Linked DNA regions of Homo sapiens: regions 1, 2 and 3 are each linked to region 4. The links come from fine-mapping of genetic effects on plasma protein levels. A gene starts in region 4. Each other region holds a variant in brackets. All regions are shown on one strand. Distances are from middle to middle.

Region 1 (2,660 bases), 3.9 Mb after region 4:
CTGCTCTTTGTTTTTAAGCGACGAGTGTCTTGCTATGTTGCCGGAGCTGCAGTACAGTGGCTCTTCACGGGTGCAATCATAGCACACCACAGCCTTGAACTCCTGGCCTCAATCCTTCTGCCTCAGCCTCCTGAGTAGCTGGGACTTCAGATGCACACCACCTATAGCTTCTCTTCCATGCTCTTGCTCTCTCTTTTGGAATAGTTGAGGGAAAAGGGTATGAGATAAATAAAGGAGAGGGATGTTTGGGCTGCTTTTTGCTTGCTTGCTATATAGAAAAGAGATCCGGAAAGAAGTCTAAGACCAAGTTGGCACTGGCAGTGTTAATGAATCATTAACCTCTACTATTTTTTTTCTTTCTTCCTTTCTTTTCTTTTCTCTTTTCTTTTCTCTTTTTTTGAGACAGGGCCTTGCTCTGTTGCCCAGGCTGGAGTGCAATGGCATGATCTCAGCTCACTGCAACCTCCACCTCCTGGTTTCAGTAGATCCTCCTACCTCAGTCTCCCCAAGTAGCTGAGACTGTAGGCACATGCCACCACACCTGACTAAAATTTTTTTTTTTTTTTTCTGTTGGTAGAGATGGGATTTCACCATGTTGCCCAGGCTAGTCTCGAACTCCTGGGCTCAAGCAGTCTGCCCACCTTGGCCTCCCAAAGGCTTGGGATTACAGGCATGAGCCACTACATCTGGCCCCTTTTACTCTTTCTTGATGTTTTTGCTCTTTGTCTGGTGGGGCAGAAAAAATTACTAAGAGAAAATAATGGACAAGGAATTCAGATGGTCTCCATCATAGGTTAGTTTGAAGCTAACCAGAGACCTCTAGAGCAAGGGAGAGACAGAAATTCCCTTTTATTCCTTTTTTCTAGGCTGAACTTGAGACTTATTTTACTCCAGAGCTGGGAATGAAGTAATCATTGCCCAGATCTGATCTTGGAGACATTCCTGGGCCCTTAAGGGAGGGGAGGAGATGGTGAACAGTCGGGACACAGGCCTTGTCCTGGATTCCTCTTCTCTGAGCCAACTTGCAGACAGAATTTATGGCTCTGGACAACCCCCAGGAATCTGTCATATATTCACACCACTGAATGGGTGCTCAATTCATGTGCAAAGTGAGTCAATAAATAAATGAACAGATGTTTCTTCCGGAGTCAGAATGTAGACAGTTGAACTGATTAGAGATCCTACTGGGAGTGAGGGCCCTGGGACTCTGTTGGTGTTTCCCCACTAGCCAGGCAGTGTGCCTTAGCGTATCACATGTGGACATGGACATAGGGCCAATACACTCTCTGGGATGTTTTTATTGTTGGAGGCAGATGCAGCAGGTACAAGGAGCCAGTGTTTTTCAGAACTGCAGACCATAACCAGTAGTGGGTCTGAGATCAACTTAGTAGGTCAGACCAGTATTAAAAAAGAAATAGAATTAACACTCTTAGAGTGTTAGTGAGGATAGACATTTTTGGTAGAACTTTTATTTCAGTTATATATATATGTGTGTGTGTGTGTGTGTGTGTGTGTGTGTGTATTATATATGTACGTGTTTGTTTACTGGGTCTTGATGTGAAATATGTTTTTGAGATTGAAAAGTTTTGCAAGCCACTGTGGTAAGTTATATTGGCAAATAAAAGAACAAATAAACACCAAACTCCTTTTTACTAGATATTTCCATTAACTTCCTTTGGTTATAAACAACAGAGAATGACTCCAGCTAAACTAAGCAGATGAGGAAATTATTAGAAGGAAATAGAGCAGTTCACAGAATTTAAGGGAAAGCTTAGAAAGCCCTAACCAAGGATGTTCTGGGGCCTGGGTAAGTGGAACGATGGAGGCTTACTACTATTGGTGAATTGGTTCCAGCTGTTTTAGGTCTCTGCACCATTATGCTCAAGATTCCAGGGAGAGAGTACCATTGTCCCTTGGCCCCCAGTTGTCCAGAGCAGGACAGGGTTCCTTGACTGATAG[G/GC]CCCCCCCCAGATTACAGTGATGGAAGGAGATTCTCCAAAGACCCAAGTGTTGTTATCAGTGGAGGGGAATGGAAGCTGCGTGGCAAAAGAACAGATGTCTATGACATTAGACTTTACCATGGATGATCTCTGATTTCATTTCCCTCCTTCCCTCTCTTCCTTCTTTCCATCCTTCTTTAAATCACTTTTTTTTTTTTTTTTGAGACAGGGTCTCACTCTGTTGCCCAGGCTGGAGTGCAGTGGTGTGATCATAGCTCACTGCAGCCTTGAACTCCTGGACTCAAGGGATCCTTTCACCTCAGCCTCCCAAGTAGCTGGGACCACAGGCATACTCAACATGTTTAGCTAATTTTTCATTTTTCGTAGATATGGGTTCTCACTATGTTGCCCAGGCTAGTCTTGAACTCCTGGTTTAAAGTAATCTTCCTGCCTCGGCCTCTCAAAGTGCTGGGATTACAGGTGTGCACCACTGCACCTGGCCTTAAATCACCTTTTTTTTGGGCGGTGGGAGGGGGAGGATGGAGTCTCACTCTGTCACCCAGGCTGGGGTGCGGTGGCACAATCTTGGCTCACTGCAACCTCCATCTCCCTGGTTCAAGCAATTCTCCTGCCTCAGCCTCCCGAGTAGCTGGGATTACAGGCATGGGCCACCATGCCCAGCTAATTTTTGTACTTTTACTAGAGATGGGGTTTCATCATG
Region 2 (2,682 bases), 2.2 Mb after region 4:
GTGTTGCTGGATGTGACATCCTCAAAATAACACTCTTCAAACAGGGAATCCTCAAAGGACACTGACTTGAGCCGCAGCCCAATGAACCTGTAAGGCCAGGATGGTGAAAGACACTCCCCCGTCATCCTCATGCCCCCTCCAAGACTCACTCTTTAGCGAAGTAATGGGAAGCTGGGCATTGAGAAGAAACCACAAGTGTTTGCCCCCCAAATGTCTTGTCTTGAACCCCTAGACTCATAAAAGAGACGAGGTAGAAGGAACAGGGAAGAAGTGAAGTTTAAAAGTCCCCACATACTTGTCATTGAAGTACTGCCCGCCTCGGTGGATCTGATTCTCCAACGTGAAGTTAAAAGTTACATGCTCTACGCGCTCCCCGGGGAACACTTTGGTGCGGGATGCGTAGTCCACTGCCTGGAGATGGCGGATCATGTCAGGAAACCAGACGGTCAGGCCATAGTAGCTGAAGAGTCAAGGACAATGGAAACAGACAACAGGGCTTCAGACAAGGCTCAGAGATTAGAATCAGGCAGAGGAGAAAACGGAAATGTGTATCATCTCAGAACAAGGGAGAAATGGAGTCAACCTCTGTTAGGACCTTGCTCCTCTCCAGCCTCACCAGCTTCTCCCTGCTCCTCCCTTCAACAGTTGCTGCGCTCCTGGGGGACTTCAGGGTCTCGCACAGCAGCCACTATACTTTTTCTTACCTCCCAAGCATTTGCTTTTCCCTCTGCCAAAAACACTCTTCTCCACCCCAGCCACCCCCACTCCACCTGTCTGACTCCCATTCACCTTTGAGGACTTAGGTCCCCACCCCAGCCCAAGCCCCAAGTGCTCCCACTGCCCTTCCCCCACCCTTCTCTCATCACCCTGCTTCATAGCAAGTTTCGTCTCACTTCTTTTTTTTCTTTTGAGACGGAGTCTCGCTCTGTCACCCAGGCTGGAGTGCAGTGGCGCGATCTCGACTCACTGCAACCTCTGCCTCCCGGATTCACACCATTCTCCTGCCTCAGCCTCCAGAGTAGCTGGGACTACAGGCGCCCACCACCATGCCCGGCTAATTTTTTGTATGTTAGTAGAGACGGGGTTTCACCGTAGCCAGGATGGTCTCGATCTCCTAACCTCATGATCCGCCCGCCTCGTCCTCCCAAAGTGCTGGGATTACGAGCCTCATCGTCCTGCTTCTTAACCAAAACATAAACTCCAGGAGGACCTTGGACCACATCTGTTTCATCCCAGCACAGAATAGAAACTGAATCCTGGTCAGCCTACAGTACAAGTTTGTTGAGTGAACTAGCGAAGTAGAGGAGCTGGCTGCAGGATCAGAGGGGGTCTGCATGGCACCTTCCCTCATCGCTTGTCCCCTGCATCTCCATTCTCCCCACCTCTCTCCCAGCCCACACACCACCACAACCACCACACATCACCCAGCCCACCCATCTCCTCACCTGAATGACATGGTGAACCACACACCCATCATCATCAGAGTGATGCGCCGATATTCGGGACCAAAACAGGAGAGAAAATTCCCCCAAACCTACAGGGGACCAGACAAAGTCAGACCTTG[A/G]CTATACTAAGTTCTAGCACCCATAGATCCCCACTTTTCTGCCCTCCCACCTCCCTTCAGCTCACCCATCACCCACACACATAGACTTCAGTCCTGCCTTCTTCTCCACTTCCCCCACTCCCTTCTATCTACCACCCCGTCCACCATTACCTGCCCCCCTAGGCTCAAGGCCCGGACCCCCCAGCGCTGGTACCAGGTCCCTGTGTCCGACTGGATCTCAATCAATTCATCCTCCTGATGAATCGTCTTAATGTGGGTTACCTGGGGTCAAGAGAAGGGGTGGGCAGTCACACACTCTGTGTTTCCCAACATCGGCCAGGCGCCTCAGTTTCCCCTGCATTAGCAAAATGGGAGGCAGGAGGTGGATATGATACCCTGAAAATCTCCTTACGGTAGAGTGTGGTCTGAGGTGGGGGGTACTCAGAGAGGGGCCAGGTAGGGGCTGGGGCTGCAGGGCGTGGAGGTCTGAGTCGGGAGGGCTGTGGCTTACTGAGAACACTCGCTCAGGATGTCCTTTGGCTCGCATGTTGGTATCATGGACCTGCTTCAGCACCATCCAGGCCTCATCATGCTTTCCATTCTAGAGCCAAAGACACAATCCCCACATCCAAGTCAGCCCCTACCTGACCCAGAGTTATAGACCCCCTCCCTCCCACCTGGCTTCTGTAGTCACAGGACACTAAATGGTTCCCAGCCCTCAACCCCACCACCAAGCCCTGACCTATGGGCATGCACTCACCACTCTGAAAGAGCCCCAAGCTGAGGTATAGCAAGACAATCAGACTTGGGCAAGAGCTGCGGGTTGGGGGTGGGGAGTGTTGTCCAGGGGAAAAAGGCAAGCACAGGTCTTGGGAATTCCATAGTACAGAGGAATGTAAAAACCAAAGGTAAGGGAAATGATGGGCAAGCATGTAGTCAAAGACCTAATCCTGCTGGGGTTAGGAGGGGAAGGTATAGGGGGTGGGAATGTCTCTTGAGCTGTAAATGCAGGACAGGGCCAAGGCCCTTCCCTGCAAAATCTTAAGTCATCCATGGGTAAAGAGGTCCCCTGGTTTCTCCACCCAAGAACCCCTCAGGGACACATTCCAAGGCAAAGAATGCAAGATAAAGTCCCCTGG
Region 3 (2,682 bases), 2.3 Mb after region 4:
TGATTAGGTTCAAGTAACCAGCCTGCTGTACATGGCTTCAGGGGAGATTGGCCTCAGTAGAGGGGGCGGGGGCTGAGTGGGAGGAACACGGGTGAAACACTAATGGATCATGGGGCTCCCTTCCCCTTGCCAGTGCTTGATCTAGGCATGTGATAGAGTTCTGACCAATTCGAGATGTGAGAAAATCCGCTGGAGGCTTTTGGGAAAGTCTTCTTTGCTCTTACAAAGAGATGAAAAGAAAGAATAAATTATTTTCCTCTGCTGCTGAAAGTTGTTGGATTTGGAAATGTTGTGCTGGTCAGAGGCCAGACTGACATACTGAGGATGACAGAGCAAAAATATTAAAAGAATCTGGGTCTTTGGTGCCCTGCTGAATTAACCTATCCCAGAGTGGTCCAACTTGAAATTCTTGTTATATGGGATAAATGCATCTTTCTTATTTTTTGAGCCATTTCAAATTTAGTCTTTCTATTGCTTGTAACCAAAATAATCCCAACGAGTAAAATGTCATCAACAATACCTCAGTGTCAATGGATAAACTGAAAATTCCTTAATCTCCTTTGTAAGAGGGAACCCAGCCTGGTCTTAACTCCATTTCTACATTTCCATTTCTACATTTGTGTTCTACTTCCTTGACCACCAGTGGTGTGCTAGTAAATATTAACAACCGGTTCTCCAGGGTGAAAAAGCCCTGATTTGTAACATTTACTAATTTTCTTTCTCTTTTCTTTTTCTTTTTTTTTTTTTTTTTTTGAGACAGAGTCTCGCTTTTGTCGCCAAGGCTGGAGTGCAGTGGCACAATCCTGGCTCACTGCAACCTCTGCCTCCCGGGTTCAAACTTCTCCTGCCCCAGCCTCCTGAGTAGCTGGGATTAGAGGCACCCACCACCACGCCTGGCTAATTTTGTATTTTTAGTAGACACGGGGTTTCACCATGTTGACCAGGCTGGTCTTGAACTCCTGACCTCAGGTGATCCACCCGCCTTGGCCTCCCAAAGTGCTGAGATTACAGGAGTAAGCCACCATGCCCAGCCAGCAGTTACTAATTTTCATGGTGCAAATATTTCTACCACTGATAAGTTCATGCTACCAATGTGATGTTGCTGAACAAGGAGCTGGGAAATGTGCAGTCGGCTCTAGCAAGTCAGTAAGAGACAGCTTGAGCTAACTCCAGCAAACCACCATGTTACCACCCAACTGTCTCCCCTGTCTCTAAGTTTTCTCTCTGGAGAGAGTTCAAGGCCCAATCTGTATCACCTCCTTTTAAAGTCTTTGTGTTAAATCCTAAACTATAAATGTGTTTATCAGTCAACTGGAATTTAGCAATTGCCTTGAATTGTTAATTTTCACAAGTATTTGCTCATAAGTGAACCGCTTAATCAATTAATGAAAAATACTTAGCAATAATAAAAATGTCAAAAGAGAGGAGTTTAGTGACACCATCTTACCTTCCTGCACTCCCTAAAGTGTTCCTAGGATTAGGCATTAGGAGAACTCCTAAGAAGAAAATCCCTGCCTCC[A/T]GGCCCTAAAATCACTGGAGGTGCTTTATTGTAAATAAGATTTATCAGCTCCCAATTATTGCAAGTAACAGTTTCCCAGGAGAGCTGGGTTAAGAGATTAAAAAAGGGCCCTTGGCAAGATTGGGTGTGTTTCTAGTATGGTCCTGACAAATCCCCTGAGGATGTAAGAATGGGCTTCTAAGGCCATTACAGGCCTAGCAACAAGTAGGTAGAGAAAAGAAGCCAGTTCCTTAGGCTATGAGGAGAGCAAGTGCTACCTTACCTAATTGGAATGCAGGTCAGGTGGGTCAGCTTAATCTCCACCTCACAGGTGACACACCCCAGGCTTGGAGGAAGCATGTACTTAAGACTACCAACACTTTAGCTCAGGCAATGAGGAGAGGCCTGGGAATGGAATGACAAAGTCACTCTGCCCCTGACTAGGTCAGCACTAGGAGGGAGGCCAAACTCAGGCTACTGGAAACTGACAGAGCATTCAGGGGATAGAAGATTGACACTACATCAGGCTCTGGTTATTGCTTTGGGGCATTTACTTGACACTGTCATTAACTCCCCTTTTTTCTTTGTGACTAATGGCCCAGGTTGACCTCAACAGGTACCACATACTAAGAACATTTCCTAAATTATAAAGACATGCTTTTTCTCCCCACATCAGGGAGCTTTGGGGTTCAGTGACTATATCTAATTGGCATCTACTAGAATCTCTCACTGACGTGCCCTCCATTTCCATATTACTGTCCTGATCAGCACTGTGGCTGTTCCCATGTTGCTTATGGTCTATGGACGAGCCTGCAAAGCATAGCAACAACCATAGAGATGTCAATGGAAGTCATTATTTTCAGTTGGAAAAAAATTTAGAATTGAAAAGTGTCACCATTACGTAGGTAACCTTCCTAGTTTAAAAAGAGATAAAATCCTGAGGTCCAAAGAAATTAGTGAAACAAGACCAAAACCTACGAAGGGATCCATGGATACGAGTAAAGTACTCTAGAAGCACCCAAGGGAAAAATATAAGAACTGAGGCACGTTTAAAAATAAAACACTGCCTATAGCAGGAAAGAGGAAGGGAAACTGAGGGGCCAAATAATGAAACTGGGCAGAAAGAGGTCCCAAGTGCTAATCAAGGATGCTGGACCTGCAACACCTTTTAAGCAGACTAGCTG
Region 4 (2,682 bases):
GCACTCCACAGGTGTAATACCTGGGAGTTTGGGGATTTCAGGTTGCCTGTTCCTCTTCACTAGGCCTTTCTGCTATAAAAAGTCACATCCAGGAAAGATAATCATTTTTTTTTAAACTATTTGTGCTTTAGTCATAATTATCCTGACAAAACCAGACAGATTTTTAAAACATTACTGCCACAGACTAGCCCATTTTAAATTTGTTCCGACCTCAGATCCCTCCCACTATAGGTTTAGTAACCTTAAATAGAAAAGGAGAACCCTAGAATACAACACTTGTTACAAAAAAAAACTTCAGGAGATCTCAAATGGCCTCCAGCAAACCCTGAGAAAAAGCAGTTATAAAGTTTGTTTCCAAAGGCAACGACCTCTTATCCACTGTAATCTCAGTTAAGAGTGGTTCCTATCACTAAAGTCCCTTCAGCCCTTCAGCTCTGACAAACCACCTTCAAAATGGTCACACAGAAGTGCACTGCACCCTTGTATTCAAGTTCACCTAGACCCTTAATAGAAATGCTGACCTGGGGCACTACTCCACACCTGCTGAATCAGAATCTGCAACGTAGCAGGATCCCCAGGCGACTCCCATGCGTCTTAAGCAGCGCTTACTGATGGCTGCGCCATCAGGGCAAAACTGGAAGTTCCGGGGCTGTCCTAACCCCAGCAGGTCCTTTGCTCAAGAGCCTGGGGAGTCACTGGCTACTGCTGTTTTCCCTTCTTCTGGACCCAACCCGAGCCCCGCTCCGCGCGAGTAAAGCTCTGAAGATGTGTGTCAGGGCGAGACTCCTGGCCTGGCACACGGTCCTCGCCCCACCAGCCCCAGCCCGGGCCGACCTCTCACCTGCTCCTCCAGCGGGAGCGGCTTGAGAGGACTCCGAGCCCCGTGTCGAAACACGACCTGCACCATTTTCAACTTCAGCAGGCTGCGGTCGACCGGACACTGGCCATCGGCCTCCTGCAGCTCGGCCAGGGCCACCCGCCGCTGGTGCAGGCAGTACGCCAGCGAGGTCAGGACGCCCACTGGGGTCCACAAGCGCATGCTGAACACACCAGTGATCATGGTGGTAGGCCCTCGCTGCCCTCCGGGTTGAGGCTGCAGGAGGCAAACACAAGTCTTCTGCGGGCGCCGGGGCTCAGCGGGCGCCCCCAAGTCCGCGGGAACCTGCGGATGCGTACATCCAGCCCTTCAGCAAGCAGGGACCGCTGTGCCTCCCGGCCCTGAGGGAGACCCCGAGTGGGAACGGGGGAGAGAACAAGAGGTGGCAGCAGCGAAGAGTCCCTGGGAGTTTTAACCCGGGTCGGGGTTGGTCGCTCCTGCTGCACACCGGGCCGGGGGAGATCGGATCCTTATCTTTTGCCCGACGAGGAACATTAAACTTGTATTTCAAGTTTGGCCTCCAGCACTCTTGAAGGAACAGGAGCCGGCCCTGAGTTCCCTGGCGGCAGCGGCTCCACCAGCAAGGACTACTCGATTCCACTTTTCTATAAGCAAGCTCCTACCCACCTCCTCACCTACTCAGGGACCCGTCCCAAGTGGACCCGCGCACAGGAGCACGGGAAAACGAGTCCTGTGGTGACACCTCGCCTGGAGACTCAGAGCTGCGGAAACTACAACTCCCACAAGGCTGCGCGTACCGCGGCTCCCAAGAAGTGGCTTGTACCCGCCCCCCTCGCCTGCGGGCCTCGCCCCTCCGGCCCAGCCAGCCGTTTTCCAGGCGTGGATGGCCCACGGACGTGCCTGGTCCGGCAGTGGAGTGGTAGTGAATCTGTCGGGCCATGGAGTTTGCCAGGCAGGAGGATCGCGAGCGCAGGAGTAGAACTGGGTGGTGGAGGGGAGTAGTTTGAGTCTAGTTTTGAATGTAGAAGACTTCCTTCCAGTCCTGGAAGCCTGGTTGCTGCAGCGAGGAGCTGAGACACCTGCCGAGTGATTGCCATTTGCGAAACACAGCACTAGGTGCTTTATATTTAGTCATTTACTACTCCCTTCTCTGTTTTTAAAAAAATTCTCAAGCTTAAGTCATTGTAATCATGTAGAACTTTCAGGTCACTGATGTGTTTACTTCCATCCAGAATACTTCTTGTGGAAAAAGCCAGGCCTTGCCTGTGGGTGTCCCAGTGATTAAGAACCTAAGAGGCGCCATGGCTCACGCCTGTAATCCCAGCACTTTGGGAGGCCGAGGCGGGTAGATCATGAGGTCAGGAGATCGAGACCATCCTGGCTAACACGGTGAAACCACGTCTCTACTAAAAATACAAAAAAAAAAAAAAAAAAAAATTAGCCAGGCGTGGTGGCGGGCACCTGTAGTCCCAGCTACTCAGGAGGCTGAGGCAGGAGAATGGCGTGAACCCGGGAGGCGGAGCTTGCAGTGAGCCGAGATCGCGCCACACGACTCCAGCTTGGGCAACAGCGCAAGACTCCGTCTACAAAAAAAAAACAAAAAAAAACCTAAGAACACAGAACAATGCCAGCCTTACCACCTGCTAGTCTGGTTTCTGTTGATATACAGGTATCCCAAGCCTGTGTTTCCAGATCTTTGCAACAGGACACAATCTGGGACCCACTATGTGTCTATCTCCAAAGATCAAACTGGGCCAGATGTAAAGACAACATACTTACAGAGCATGGCTCCTGGCCTGAGAACAAATTCTGTTCACCAAGCTGGAAGGTTCTGAGTGCTCCCC

Which allele goes with the higher level. Alleles are on the strand shown, and positions count from the first base shown. The strength of an association depends on the size of the effect and on how common the allele is.
With allele G in place of GC in region 1, the plasma level of the protein whose gene starts at base 1,536 in region 4 is higher (weak association).
With allele A in place of G in region 2, the plasma level of the protein whose gene starts at base 1,536 in region 4 is higher (moderate association).
For the plasma level of the protein whose gene starts at base 1,536 in region 4, T is the low allele of the variant in region 3 and A is the other (weak association).

Evidence for each region. PIP is the chance, under the fine-mapping model, that this variant and not a neighbour inherited with it causes the effect. The UK Biobank Pharma Proteomics Project read protein levels with antibody pairs (Olink). The fine-mapping took linkage between variants from a reference panel, not from the people measured, so its PIPs are less certain.
Region 1: its variant is fine-mapped to the plasma level of the ACP6 protein (UK Biobank, PIP 0.98).
Region 2: its variant is fine-mapped to the plasma level of the ACP6 protein (UK Biobank, PIP above 0.99).
Region 3: its variant is fine-mapped to the plasma level of the ACP6 protein (UK Biobank, PIP above 0.99).

What each region holds. Positions count from the first base shown.
Region 1 is chr1:151,541,840-151,544,499 of GRCh38, forward strand. All of the region lies in intron 1 of TUFT1 (tuftelin 1), which reads left to right. Among named protein-coding and RNA genes, the nearest start is that of MIR554, 2.6 kb to the right of the region's middle. The variant G/GC (reference allele first, on the strand shown) is at 1,960.
Region 2 is chr1:149,907,747-149,910,428 of GRCh38, forward strand. SV2A (synaptic vesicle glycoprotein 2A) reads right to left here. Exons shown (of 13, transcript NM_014849.5): 6 at 2,055-2,144; 7 at 1,715-1,825; 8 at 1,446-1,534; 9 at 296-460; 10 at 1-87. Among named protein-coding and RNA genes, the nearest start is that of SV2A, 8.8 kb to the right of the region's middle. RefSeq lists an enhancer at 2,431-2,682. The variant A/G (reference allele first, on the strand shown) is at 1,565.
Region 3 is chr1:150,015,719-150,018,400 of GRCh38, forward strand. The region is part of intron 1 of LOC124904413 (a long non-coding RNA gene); the gene reads left to right. It also overlaps a transcript of OTUD7B not described here. Among named protein-coding and RNA genes, the nearest start is that of OTUD7B, 6.3 kb to the left of the region's middle. RefSeq lists enhancers at 1,413-2,072, 2,073-2,682. The variant A/T (reference allele first, on the strand shown) is at 1,520.
Region 4 is chr1:147,668,989-147,671,670 of GRCh38, forward strand. ACP6 (acid phosphatase 6, lysophosphatidic) reads right to left here and starts at 1,536. Exons shown (of 10, transcript NM_016361.5): 1 at 842-1,536. The coding sequence starts at 1,060. RefSeq lists enhancers at 384-1,327, 539-598, 1,239-1,488, 1,929-1,998.